3 linked regions of the Homo sapiens genome follow. The protein of the gene in region 1 purifies or fractionates together with the protein of each later gene. This does not show direct contact. Each region holds a gene or a part of one and is shown in the gene's direction. Other genes may lie near its edges.

Evidence for each region.
Region 2: the proteins of ABCG2 (region 1) and ATP8A1 fractionate together in Homo sapiens (co-fractionation; one large-scale study listed by BioGRID). This does not show direct contact.
Region 3: the proteins of ABCG2 (region 1) and PCSK7 fractionate together in Homo sapiens (co-fractionation; one large-scale study listed by BioGRID). This does not show direct contact.

Annotation. Positions count from the first base shown.
Region 1 is NC_000004.12:88,110,140-88,113,639, reverse strand, and holds part of ABCG2 (broad substrate specificity ATP-binding cassette transporter ABCG2), read left to right. Parts: intron 1-86; coding exon 87-337; intron 338-3,500.
Region 2 is NC_000004.12:42,654,306-42,658,379, reverse strand, and holds the start of ATP8A1 (phospholipid-transporting ATPase IA), read left to right. Parts: upstream 1-1,274; 5' UTR 1,275-1,506; coding exon 1,507-1,555; intron 1,556-4,074. UniProt on the Homo sapiens protein: Catalytic component of a P4-ATPase flippase complex which catalyzes the hydrolysis of ATP coupled to the transport of aminophospholipids from the outer to the inner leaflet of various membranes and ensures the maintenance of asymmetric distribution of phospholipids.
Region 3 is NC_000011.10:117,229,274-117,233,419, reverse strand, and holds the start of PCSK7 (proprotein convertase subtilisin/kexin type 7 preproprotein), read left to right. Parts: upstream 1-1,346; 5' UTR 1,347-1,393; intron 1,394-2,951; 5' UTR 2,952-3,071; intron 3,072-3,563; 5' UTR 3,564-3,575; coding exon 3,576-4,043; intron 4,044-4,146. UniProt on the Homo sapiens protein: Serine endoprotease that processes various proproteins by cleavage at paired basic amino acids, recognizing the RXXX[KR]R consensus motif. Likely functions in the constitutive secretory pathway.

The DNA of each region.
Region 1 (3,500 bases):
AGCATCCAAGAAAGGGTTCACAGAAAAAATGGGCTAAATTTGTTGTTATCTTGTTTGTGTTTCCTTTTTATCCACTGATTGCAAAGCCACAGAGATCATAGAGCCTTCCAAGCAGGATAAGCCACTCATAGAAAAATTAGCGGAGATTTATGTCAACTCCTCCTTCTACAAAGAGACAAAAGCTGAATTACATCAACTTTCCGGGGGTGAGAAGAAGAAGAAGATCACAGTCTTCAAGGAGATCAGCTACACCACCTCCTTCTGTCATCAACTCAGATGGGTTTCCAAGCGTTCATTCAAAAACTTGCTGGGTAATCCCCAGGCCTCTATAGCTCAGGTAACCAGCAGATTCTTTTGAAATACTCAAATGGGAACAATGTGGTTCTGTTATCATCTGCTTCAGGATATGTTTATCTTCTACCCACCCTTCCAATTATTTGTTATCTTCACTCCACCTGGGATATAGAACCAGTCAGCAGAACAAATAAAGGACAATTAAGTTTTACTTTTGGAAAGCTTCCCTTTTTTTGAGACAGAGTCTCACTCTGTTGCCCAGGCTGGAGTGTGGTGGCATGAACTCAGCTCACTGCAGCCCTGACCTCCCTGGGCTCAAGTGATCCTCACACCTCAGCCTCTTGAATAGCTGAGACTACAGGCGTGTCCCACCACGTCCAGCTAATTTTTGTGTTTTGTGTAGAGATGGGGTTTCGCTGTGTTGCCCAGGCTGGTCTTGAACTCGTGGGTTCAAGCGATTCTCCTGCCTCAGTCTCCCAGAGTGCTAGGATTACAGGTGTGAGCCACCACATCTGGCCAGGTTCTTTTTTTTAGTGGTTTCTTAGACTACCTAACTCAGAATTTTTGTTGATTTAGACAAGCTGTAATGAATAATCTGAGTAGAAAAATTTTTTTTTTGGGAAATTGTGAAAGAAGTGTCAGCCAGTTTTGGGGTTTTCTGGTAGCTGTTCACTTTTGTTCACTGATTCATTCAACTTGTTCTTATAGGGCCTGTGCTGTGCTTTAGGGATGTGAATTCAGTAGTGAACAAAATGGGCAAAAATAAAACTCTGCTCATGGAGCTAATTTTTTGAGGAAGACAGTTATGATAAATAATAAAGAAATTAAATAGATAGCATGTTAGATGGTAGAAGAAACTATGGGGAAAGTTTAAGCAGAGAAGGGGTGGAGAAAGGGGAGGAAGAGAGAGAAGTAGGGAGAAGAAGGTTGATTTGCAGTTGGAATCAGGTGATCAGGGAAACCTTCACCTACTGTCACTGAATACACCTGAAAGGGAGTATGTGCTGGCCACTCCAAGGGAAGAGCCTGTGTGCAAAGTGCTGTTCCTTGTCATTTACCTTCCTTAGACAGTTTACAGGTGAAACAAATGTAGTAAGCAAATTTGAGTTCACAGAACAAGGCTATTCATTGTTAGATTAACTTTCTGTTAATCAAAATGAGATAATGTTTCTTTGTTCCTTGGTTGGCTCTGTGATAGTTGGTGATTATTACTCCTTGTGGTTTTTGTTATTCTTTTCTTTACACATTTTTTTTTTTTTAGAGACTGGGTCTCACTCTGTCACTCATACTGGAGTGCAGTGGTGCAATCATAGCTCACTGCAACCCCAAACTCTTGGCTCAAGCGATCCTCACACTTCAGCCTCCCGAGTAGCTGTGACTACAGCCGTGCACCACAACACCTGGCTGATTTTTTAATTTTTTGTAGAAACAGGGTCTCACTATGTTGTCCTGGTCTGGATCTCCTGGGCTCAAGCGATCCTCCTGCCTTGGCCTCCCAAAGTGCTGGGATCACAGGTGTGAGCCACCATGCCTGGCCTTTTCTGTTATTCTTAACCCCTCTGTCACCCAAAACATTAGTACTCCCAGTTCATTGGTCCATTCTTCAAAGAAGTCAATTTAGCTGGTTATTTTGGGGCTGTTATTTTTATTAACAATATTGAGTTTCTGTTGAGTACTAAAAGATGGCACATTGTTGGCTCTAGTAAAATATTACTGACGTTTAAACTTGTGCATCATAATTTCTATACTTAAGTATATATAAAATATATCTAAGAGCTTGTATCCCTAGTTAAGCCATACTGCTAATTATGTATATATATGTATATATGTATAGCCACATATATGTATGTATAGCCATACTGCTAGTTAAGTATATATATAAATTTATCTAAGAGCTTGTATCCCTAGTTGAACCATATTGCTAATTTCTCCAAATGTTTTTGGTACGTATAATTTGGTGTTTCTGTCAGAACACTGGCACTTTTATATACTATCAATTAAAGGCAAAATTTTATTCTTTGAGCATAGATTTGATATCATTTGGAAATCAGTCTGGTAGGATCAACCTGGGTTACTTATTGTCAACAGTGAAATAATGTAATGAATTGCTTTTTTAGTGTGATGTATGCATTAGATTTTTCTTACTTGGAAAATAACTTGAATTATCTTGCTTCAAAAAATGGTTTATAAATGTCTTGTCCAAATCGCCTATGTGGCAATACTGGAGAGGGCATAATTAGAACACAGAGCTGTTTTTCACACACTGAGATTCTGCATGTTTTGATACTGGGCTTCCTTCCAATGCTAACACCTGGCCTAGTGCCTCTAGGTTTAGCTTCCCTGCCTCATCAGTGAACTCACTTTCACAAAAGGAATTCCAGCCATGTTCAGAGCAGTGGCAGTCTCTTAGATTAAGAATAGGACCTTGTATCTCCCTGAGCATCTGCTTAGCAGGACAAGTTTTGTTTCGATTTGTGAAAAACTGGAATATTAGCTTAGGGCAGGAGTAGGCAATATATATTTTTTTTTTTTGTAAAGGATCAGGTAGTAAATATTTTAGGCTTTGCAGATCAGGTGGTGTTTGTCTCAGGTAGTCAGCTCTACCGTTTTAGTGTGAAAGCAGCCAAGCTCATAACATGAATAAATGAACATGGCAGTATTCCAATAATAAACGAAAGGCTGGCTAGATGCAGTGGTTCCTGCCTATAACCCCAGCACTTTGGGAGACCAAGGCAGAAGGATGCTTGAGGCCAAGAGTGTGAGAACAGCTTGGGCAATAAAGCAAGACCCCCTTTTTTTTTCTGAGACAGAGTCATGCTCTGTCGCCCAGGCTGGAGTGCAGTGGTGCTGTGTCGGCTCACTGTAACCTCCGCCTCCCGGGTTCAAGCAATTCTCCTGCCTCAGCCTCCCGAGTAGCTGGGACTACGGGTGCCCGCCACCATGCCCAGCTAATTTTTGTATTTTTAGTATAGACAGGGTCGCACCATGTTGGCCAGGCTGGCTTCGAACTCCTGACCTCAGGTGGGTCCACCCGCTTCAGTCCCCCACAGTGCTGGGATTACAGATGTGAGCCACTGTGCCTGGCCAAGACCCTATCTTAAAAAAAAAGGTAACTTTCATTTTATTCCAATGAAACATTATACATTGGCACTGAAATTTGAATTTTATATAAATTTTATATTGTGAGAAATATTATTATTCTTGAC
Region 2 (4,074 bases), about 45 Mb from region 1:
GCAGGAAGCAGAAGAAATACCACAAATGGAGATAGGACGCTATTAGCAGATTTTATTTCATTTTTTCCTGAGGCTTGGAAATAATCACTTCTCTCTCAGGTCAAACCTCTCCAGCTCTCTCCCTTCAGGATGTGAAAAGATCTCAAATAAAAGGCCTCTATGTGAGGATCTCTTTCGCTGGTTGCTGGAGGAAGAGCATGAAATGAGGGAAGAAGCAAATTGCTTCTGATTTATTGTTTCTGGTTTATTCCTTTCCTGCCAGTTCAGCAGCTCGCCAGAAACAGCACAAAACCTTACATCTTAACTTGAAGGTGAAGTATTTGTTTTGACAACTTTTTAGCATAGATCTCGGTATACAAAATAAAAGGTAATGAGGCTATGATAGTCTGAAGGACATCGGCAAATTAAAATTTAACATATTTATGGATTTTATACAAAGACTCCTCTCCCCTTTGCAGATAAAACGACTGCATCCAACTTTATGCAGATTTAACTAAAAGAAAAAAAAAAAGTCTTTTGTGAACCACCTGGGCCAATACTTAGTTGGCTTAATTGCTATTTCAGTGCCTTGTCAGGCTGCAGAGCCTGAACTAGGGAGATGCACCGGGCCCACTTGCAGGCGGGGCCCAGATGCACCCAAGCCCCATGGACAAGAGCACCATGGGCACCAGGGGCCTCCCGACCTGGCAGCCTGTTGCTAGTGGGCGAGGCAGGAGGACAAGTGCGGCTCAGGCCACGAGTCGGGCTGGGCGTGCAGAGAGGTTAGAATTACACCCAGATGGCGAACAGTCAGTCGTTCCTTTCCTGCTCTGGCTGGGAGCTAAACCTTGTAGTCCCAGACCCTTTCGCCTTCGCCTGCCGGCTCAGACCCAACAGCTCTTTCCGGACGACGGGCGGCTCCACTGCGATCAAAAGCCAGGGGTAGCGGGAGGGGATTCGTGAGAATGCAGCAGCCAGAGCAGTCTTTCCTTTCTGAGCAAGATGTGAGAGAGTCCGAGTGGCCTGGAGGAGGAACCGGGTCAACCAACTCCACAGGGCGGAGCGAAAACGCTGGAGGACTAAGGAGGCTAAGAGTTGATCCCCCCTTTGAGTCGTGATACGGTCCGAAGCGGGGCGGGGCGGGGCGAAGGAGGCTCCCCCTGGCTCTCCCCGCCCCTCACCCGCCTTCCTTGCTGAGCGGCCGCGGGAGGGGGAGCGCGAGCCCCGCAGGCCCCTCCCCCGGCGCCGGCGCCCGAGCTCCGCCCCTCGCCGAGCCGCCCCTCCGCGGCTGCAGCAAGAGCTCGCCCAGCTCTGCGGGCGCCGCCACCTTCGCCGCCACCGCTGCCTTTCTCCTCCTCCTGTCGGCGTGCGGGGGCCGCGCCCGGCGGCAGCTCTGCCCTAGGTGGGCGGCGGCGCGGCCCAGGCTGCAGCTGAGCGCTCTGCGCGGCGCAGCCGGGTCTCCCGCGTGTACCACGCCGTGACAGGTGCAGAGTCCGGGCTGAGGACCCACCTGCAGCCGCCGCCGCGATGCCCACCATGCGGAGGACCGTGTCGGAGATCCGCTCGCGCGCCGAAGGTAAGGGGCCGCCGAGGCTCGGGGCTAGCCCGGGGTCGGGAAGCGAGTGTGTGTGTGAGCGTGTGTGTTTATCCTGGAAGAGACCGCATCCTACCTCTTCCCCGGCGGCAGTCCGACTGTCGCGCCCGGCCCCTAGGGGACCCTTCCCCCCGCGCTGCCCCCAGTGTACTCGCAGACCCTTTCCAGGCTCCAGTACCCTCGAATGGGTGTTCTCCGCGGGAGCCCCGAGGCGTGCTTTGCACCGCAGTGTGACCATTAGGTCCCAGTCACTGAGCTCACTCGCCCTGCCCACCTCCCTCCCCACCAGTTCGATTTCCACTCAGCAGATCCCCAGCCCGCCGCCCCTGCCTCCGGCGCCCACCGTTTTGCAACCCCCTATCTGAGCTCCCAGCGAAGCGAGTTTGCTTTTCCCCGGCTGCAGGATCCTTTGATCCGTAGTCCCTTGGCTCTCGAAGCGCGGGGAGCCTTCATCGGGGTCGGGTGCCGAGTGGGTTCCCTGCATTACAGCTTCTGCAATTCTGCCTCCTGCAGCGGAGTCCCACCGGCTCGCGTCTGAGGTTTCGTTTTTGTGTTTCCCTTTTGCCCGAAACCCTCACTTCGGCCAGCTGAGCTGACTTTTCAGCCAGGTGGAAGCTGTTTTCTTTGCTCCACCTGGGGCCAGCTCTTGAATGGCCATGGTTGTCAACACTGAGCAACAGATGCTCCGGGGTAGAAGCAAGTAAGCTTTCCGAGGGCCCAGACTCTTCATCGTCTCCGAGGAGCCCTCAACATCCTGCCTGCCATGTGGCAGGCACTCTGTAAATATTATTTGATTTTGCTCGCGTCAAAGCCAAGACTGTAAATATCCCAAGGTTTGTTTGTCCTCTCCCATAAACCTGTACTTGAATCCTGCAGAGGGTGGAATAACATGTTTTTCAGAAATCTATCTTGCCATCATCGCTGATTCCCACTCTTCCTCCCCACCTCCATCTTTTAATGTGAGACAGGTGGTGAAGTGGTTTTAGAAAAATATATAAGTTAGGAGAATTGGATTTCAGGGATGGAGACAGGCCATTTTTTCTCCTTAGGGGCTCCCTGTAAAAATAGGGTCCCTGAAATTTTCTGATTGCAGTATTTAGGAAATATTAAATGAAACTGCTGTGGGGAGAAGACGAAGCAAGATTCAAAACTGGCCTGTGTACTACATAGGAATTCGGTACATGCTGTCATTTGTAATACCCAAAAAATACTTATATAGGGCATTATAGTTTTACATACACAGTTGAATACATTATACTTTTAAAATGCACACTGTAAAAATTCATTTTTTTTACACTTCTGAGTGAAATTAGTCATAGAGATAGTGAAAGTAGAATGGTAATAGTTGGTGGTGTTCTTTTAAATAATAGCAATTGATGGGTCCTATATTGTGGGAAATAAGGGGAAGAGAAAAAGTCTGAGAGCACTGCAAAACCTGTGGCATGTGAGGGGATTACAGGGCTGCAGTATTGTTCTTGATTGGCTTGTGTATTTTCCAAAGTACTTTTACAAAGATTACTTTATGGAAACTTACAACACTCCTGGAGGTTGGTGAAGGTGGAGTGCCATCTGATAGTTGAGGAAACTGTGGCCCATATGGTTTAGTAATTTGCCCAAGGTCAAGTAACTAGTTCAGTGACACATTTGGATTAAGAGCTCTGGGAAAACAAGGACTGCTGCTTGTTTAATCTTTGTATTCCCTGTGCGTCCAGCACAGTGTCAGGGCCATAGTGGTGCTTGGTGAGTGAATGACCCTTTCCCCTGAGATTAGTTGATTCCAGTTTATTATAGCTTCAGCATGTGCTTGGGACTGTGGTGAAGACAAATAATGACTCTGTGGGGCTGGCGTTGTGGCTCATTGCCTGCTCTGCCCACACTTTTCTTTCCTAGGAAATATTTCTTTCCTAAAAAATATAGTCCTACCTTTCCTAAGGAATATTCTCCTTTGAGAGAGGCCCTGCTGCCTAGAGGGCCTTGTTCTGAACTGCAGCCTTTTTGGCCTCAGCTGATTGGACTATGGTTGGCTCCTGACCCAGGGTCAACCAATTCTTATGTGACTCAGACACTTGTAACCTTGTGGTTTGGCTCAAAAAGAGTCTCTGTGTTAATCATATCTCTCTTGAAAACATTAAAGTTAGAGATTTAGAGTAAAAGCAGAAGGGAGCAGAGGTGAATAGGCTGGTATGGGAGAGAATGGGTGGCCATAATAAGTCATGGGAATGCTGCTGATAGAAGAAAGCAGAAACTATGAGTGAGTAGAGAGATAGCAAAGAAAATGGAATGGATGGGCAGACACAGATCCTGAGAGAGGGTGGCGAGACCTTGGAGCCTGCCCTCCCGAATTTTATAGCCCTAGTTCCCAAGTAGCATTAAAATAAGCTCTTTTCCCCCCCTTGAAATGACTTGAATGGGTTTCTGTTCCCTTCATCCAGATTGGCCAGATGTATGACTGTCATGCCTGTAAGTTGTTTACAACCAAACTGGGGAGAAAGGACTTAAAG
Region 3 (4,146 bases), on another chromosome or scaffold:
CACTGAAGAGCGCATAGGGCAGATAGGTAGATGGGGCTGTGTCAACACCTCAGTCACAGCCCACAGACCCTCTGTGCCTCAGTTTCCCTCATTATACAAAGCTCCTGGGAGAAAATGGGCCCAAACCGCCATTGCTGCTCCCTCAGGTGCAAACATCCCGTCTCCAACATAGCCCAGGGCTGGGGGGTCCTCTGCGCCCGGTGAACGAAACCCCAGGACAAGGGCCATGCATGCAACTCCGTGGCTAGAGAGCCCGTGGCGCGGGTAGGAACAGCTGGCTGGAGGGTCGAGTGTACCAAAAAGAACTCCGCAACCCGGGGCGACCACCAGCGAAGCAGGGGCGCCGGAGCCACGGGTCCTCGGGCGAGAACAGGGGACAGACGGGAAGGGGACAATGGGGGGAAGCGGCGCTGGGTGGCCTTGGCCACCCCCCACAGGGGACTGCTAGGCTGGCCGCTGGCTCGGACCAGACCCCCCTCCACCCCTTCCCCTCGGTCCCCCCACCCCGCTGCCAGCCACCCCCCCGTCCCACTTCTAGGCCGGGACCCCCGCCTCGGTTCTCACAGCACCCTCCACGCCCCCCACCCGACCCCCATGCCCGGCCCTCGCCCCGCAACCCCCACCCACGCTCGCCCCGCACACACCTCCCGCGCCGCGCCCCCGGGAGGAAAGTGGGGGAGGGACGGGACGCACCTGAGCGGGCGGAGCGGGGGGAGGGGGCGGCCGAGCCACGGGGGGAGGGGTCGAGCGCCGGCCCGCGCGCGGCACCTCCCACTTCCGGCGGCACGAGCGGAGGGGGCGAGGCTCCGGCCGCGAGAGGAGAGGCCGCGGTGGCGCCGCGCCGCCCCCGACGGCGCCCTCTGGCGGCGACAGCTGGCGCCGCCGGGGCACGGGGATGCTGCGGGAGACCCCTGAGATACAAGTGGACTCTCCCGGGGCGCGGGGAAGAAGGGAGAGCCGACTGCGAGAAGGAAGGCGACCTGGGTGGGCAGGATCCCCTCTGGGAAGATTACAGGGACAGTCGGGGCCATGGCGGTCAGAAGGAGAAGAGCAACGAGTGGCTTTTAAAGGTCGGAACCGAAATGCCCTTTACAGAGGACGCCATGAAGGAGAGCCTTCTGAAGAGGGACCATGTGGAAGATGCCCCGAGGACTCGGGGAGGCGGAGCCCGCGGGTTCAGCCCCCAGCGCCCGCACGGCCCCTGCCTGCGTAGGCCGCCCGCGGGAGCCGGACCCCGGGCGCCGGTTGCTGTGGCCCGCGGGGGTCGCCGGGCCGCAGGCGCCGCGCTGATTGGCTGCGCCGCGGGCGGAAGTGATGCTGCTGTCACTGCTCCTCCGGCTCCCGGGAAGCCGCGAGTTTCCGCAGGGAGGCGGCGGCAGCTGCGGCGGGGCCGGTGAGTTGGGAACTAGGTGTGGGGCTGGACCTGGGTGGTCAGGGGGCCCCAGAAGTGGGGGAAGCCGGCGTCTGAGGATGAGGGAGCTGCACAGAGGGTGCCTGAGGTCCTGGCGTGGGGGACCAAGGAGATGGGGCCCCAGGGCCCAGAATTCCTGGATAATGTGGGTGCTAATGAGGAGAGGGGCACATTGCACGGAGCGATCGAGGCCGACGGAGGGAGAATCGGGAAACTGACCCGGTACCCAAGCTGGCTTCTAGGAGCCGGGTGTGGAACAGCGAGGACAGTAGCTTGGGAGCAGGATCTTGGACTCCAGGCTGCCCATTCTCTTCTTCCTTGTCAATTAAGAGCTGTAAAGGGAGGCCTAGCCGTTGGGAGAGGTTGAGACCTGCTTTCAGAAGGCATTTAAGGTTCCTTTCCCAGAAGCCTGGGGGATAAAAATGCTGCTTTGCCACTAGTAGACAGAAGGAGCTCCTGCTTCTCTTTCTTCCTGACATCTGTGGTGGGATCTACTGAGTCTGAAGGAGTCTGCCTAGCGGGGCCACTGTCTGGCTAACAAGGGTTTTGTTTGTTAGTTTGTTTACTTAGTAGAGTATGCAGACTGGGGAAGACACCTAAATATCTTGGGAGAATTGAGGCTCCCGGGGGCAGGGAGGGATTGAGAGGGAATATGCCTGGAAACCTAAGAGAAAACGAGAGGAAGAAATGTAGTATGAAGATTTTTAGAGGTAAAGGAGAGGTGGCATAAGTTCTCCTTTCCAGGAAGCCTTTCAGTAAAATTCCCATTTTTCTGGAATGCTTTGAGGTAGAGCCGCTTGGGTGTGTATCTGAGTACTAAGCCCTGCCCCAGGGTGGACCCAGTGGAGAGCAAAGGCTTTTAAAGGAGCCCAGCCACCATAGGTACACACATGTCCTGCCACCCCATTTGTCTGTCCCCCAGTTCTAACTTGGCTCTTTTTTTTTTTTTTTGAGGGCTCCTGAGACCAATTCCCTGGTTCTGTCAAACCCAGGCAATTGGAGTCCCAGTCTGGAGTCTGAGTCCTCACCTTGAAGCCAGCCTCCTGAGCTCAGTACAGGAGTAGCTGCTTAGTGAGGTTCTCTCATCATTCGTTCTCTCCTGGTTGCCCGCTTGTCCTTGGTGCCTGTTCTGTTTTGTTTGCACTCTCTGGCTTTCCCCGTTTCGCCCCCGCCGCCTCCCTCCTTTCACTTTCCCTGGTATCCTTCTGGGATATACAAATCAAGAAGTTAGCTACCACCTGGACTTCTAGGACGTTATTACCTACTCTTTCAAGAGGCATTTTGGTAACTGTTTTTTGCTAGGCCTCTGGGGAACAAAATGAAAAGAGGGTGGCACGATAGCACAGGAAGTGGGTTTTTTGGGTGTTATACTGATTTGGCCTCACCGTACCAGTTCTGCTCCAGTCTATGACCGATTTTAGATCTTTGGAAATGACAATTAATGAAGTTTCTTTGGTCCCTGGTCCTGGAGTTTATCTAACCTCAGCTTGTTGCCCTGGGATTGGTGGGACATTATTTCTTCTGTTCTTGGATCCCACAGGTCTGTAGCCTTTGCTGAGTCAACACTACTCACAGTGAAAGTGATGCCTTTTCTCCATTTGCACAACATGAGTGTGACGTGGTTAGCCAGACCAGGAGCTCAACCTCATGTAGAATCCAGGTGGGCACGGGGCCCTGTTATGGGGAATTAGCCTTGAGGACAACTGGACTGAGGAGTCAGCTAGGGAAAGATTTATGTCCCCTCTAAATGTAGGGGTGAAGGGGTTGTCTCTGCTAAAGAACAGTCACGATGCAGCCAGTAGTTTGTGGAAGCGATGTGTGCTTTGAGCCCTGTGGGTGGCAACAGGGGTTGCTCGCAGTGCCTGTGAGCAACTGGACCTCCTGCTGGATTAGCTGGTGTCGTGAGGATTGGCTGTCTTGCTGTGGGAGGCCATCCGCTGGTGTTAGTGCTGGCCCACACTCCACCTGGGGGCTTATCCCTGTTGGTCAGGGATAAATGTGAACAAAAAGAGAAGATCAAATGTTTCACAATTTAAAAGGCATGGCTTAGGGACTTCCAGGGGGAACACATGGATGGCTCAGCATCTCCCTCTCAGATTCCTGCAGTTACCAGCTCTTTGATCTCTTCCATATCCTTTTTCTTTGTCTGCAGTCCACTGCTCTGATGCCGAAGGGGAGGCAGAAAGTGCCACACTTGGATGCCCCCCTGGGCCTGCCCACCTGCCTCTGGCTGGAATTAGCCGGGCTCTTCTTACTGGTTCCCTGGGTCATGGGCCTGGCAGGGACAGGTGGGCCTGATGGCCAGGGCACAGGGGGGCCGAGCTGGGCTGTGCACCTGGAAAGCCTGGAAGGTGACGGGGAGGAAGAGACTCTGGAGCAGCAGGCGGATGCCTTGGCCCAGGCAGCAGGGCTGGTGAATGCTGGACGCATCGGAGAGCTTCAGGGGCACTACCTCTTTGTCCAGCCTGCTGGGCACAGGCCGGCCCTGGAGGTGGAGGCCATCCGGCAGCAGGTGGAGGCTGTGTTGGCTGGGCATGAAGCTGTGCGCTGGCACTCAGAGCAGAGGCTGCTAAGGCGGGCCAAGCGCAGCGTCCACTTCAACGACCCCAAGTACCCGCAGCAATGGCACCTGGTGAGTCCAGTCCTGCAGTTTGCAGTTTCAGGTGGGTAGGTTCCAGTCCAGTTCTTTAATGGGCTTTTGACTATATCACTCTTCAGTCACCTCCATCCTTTGC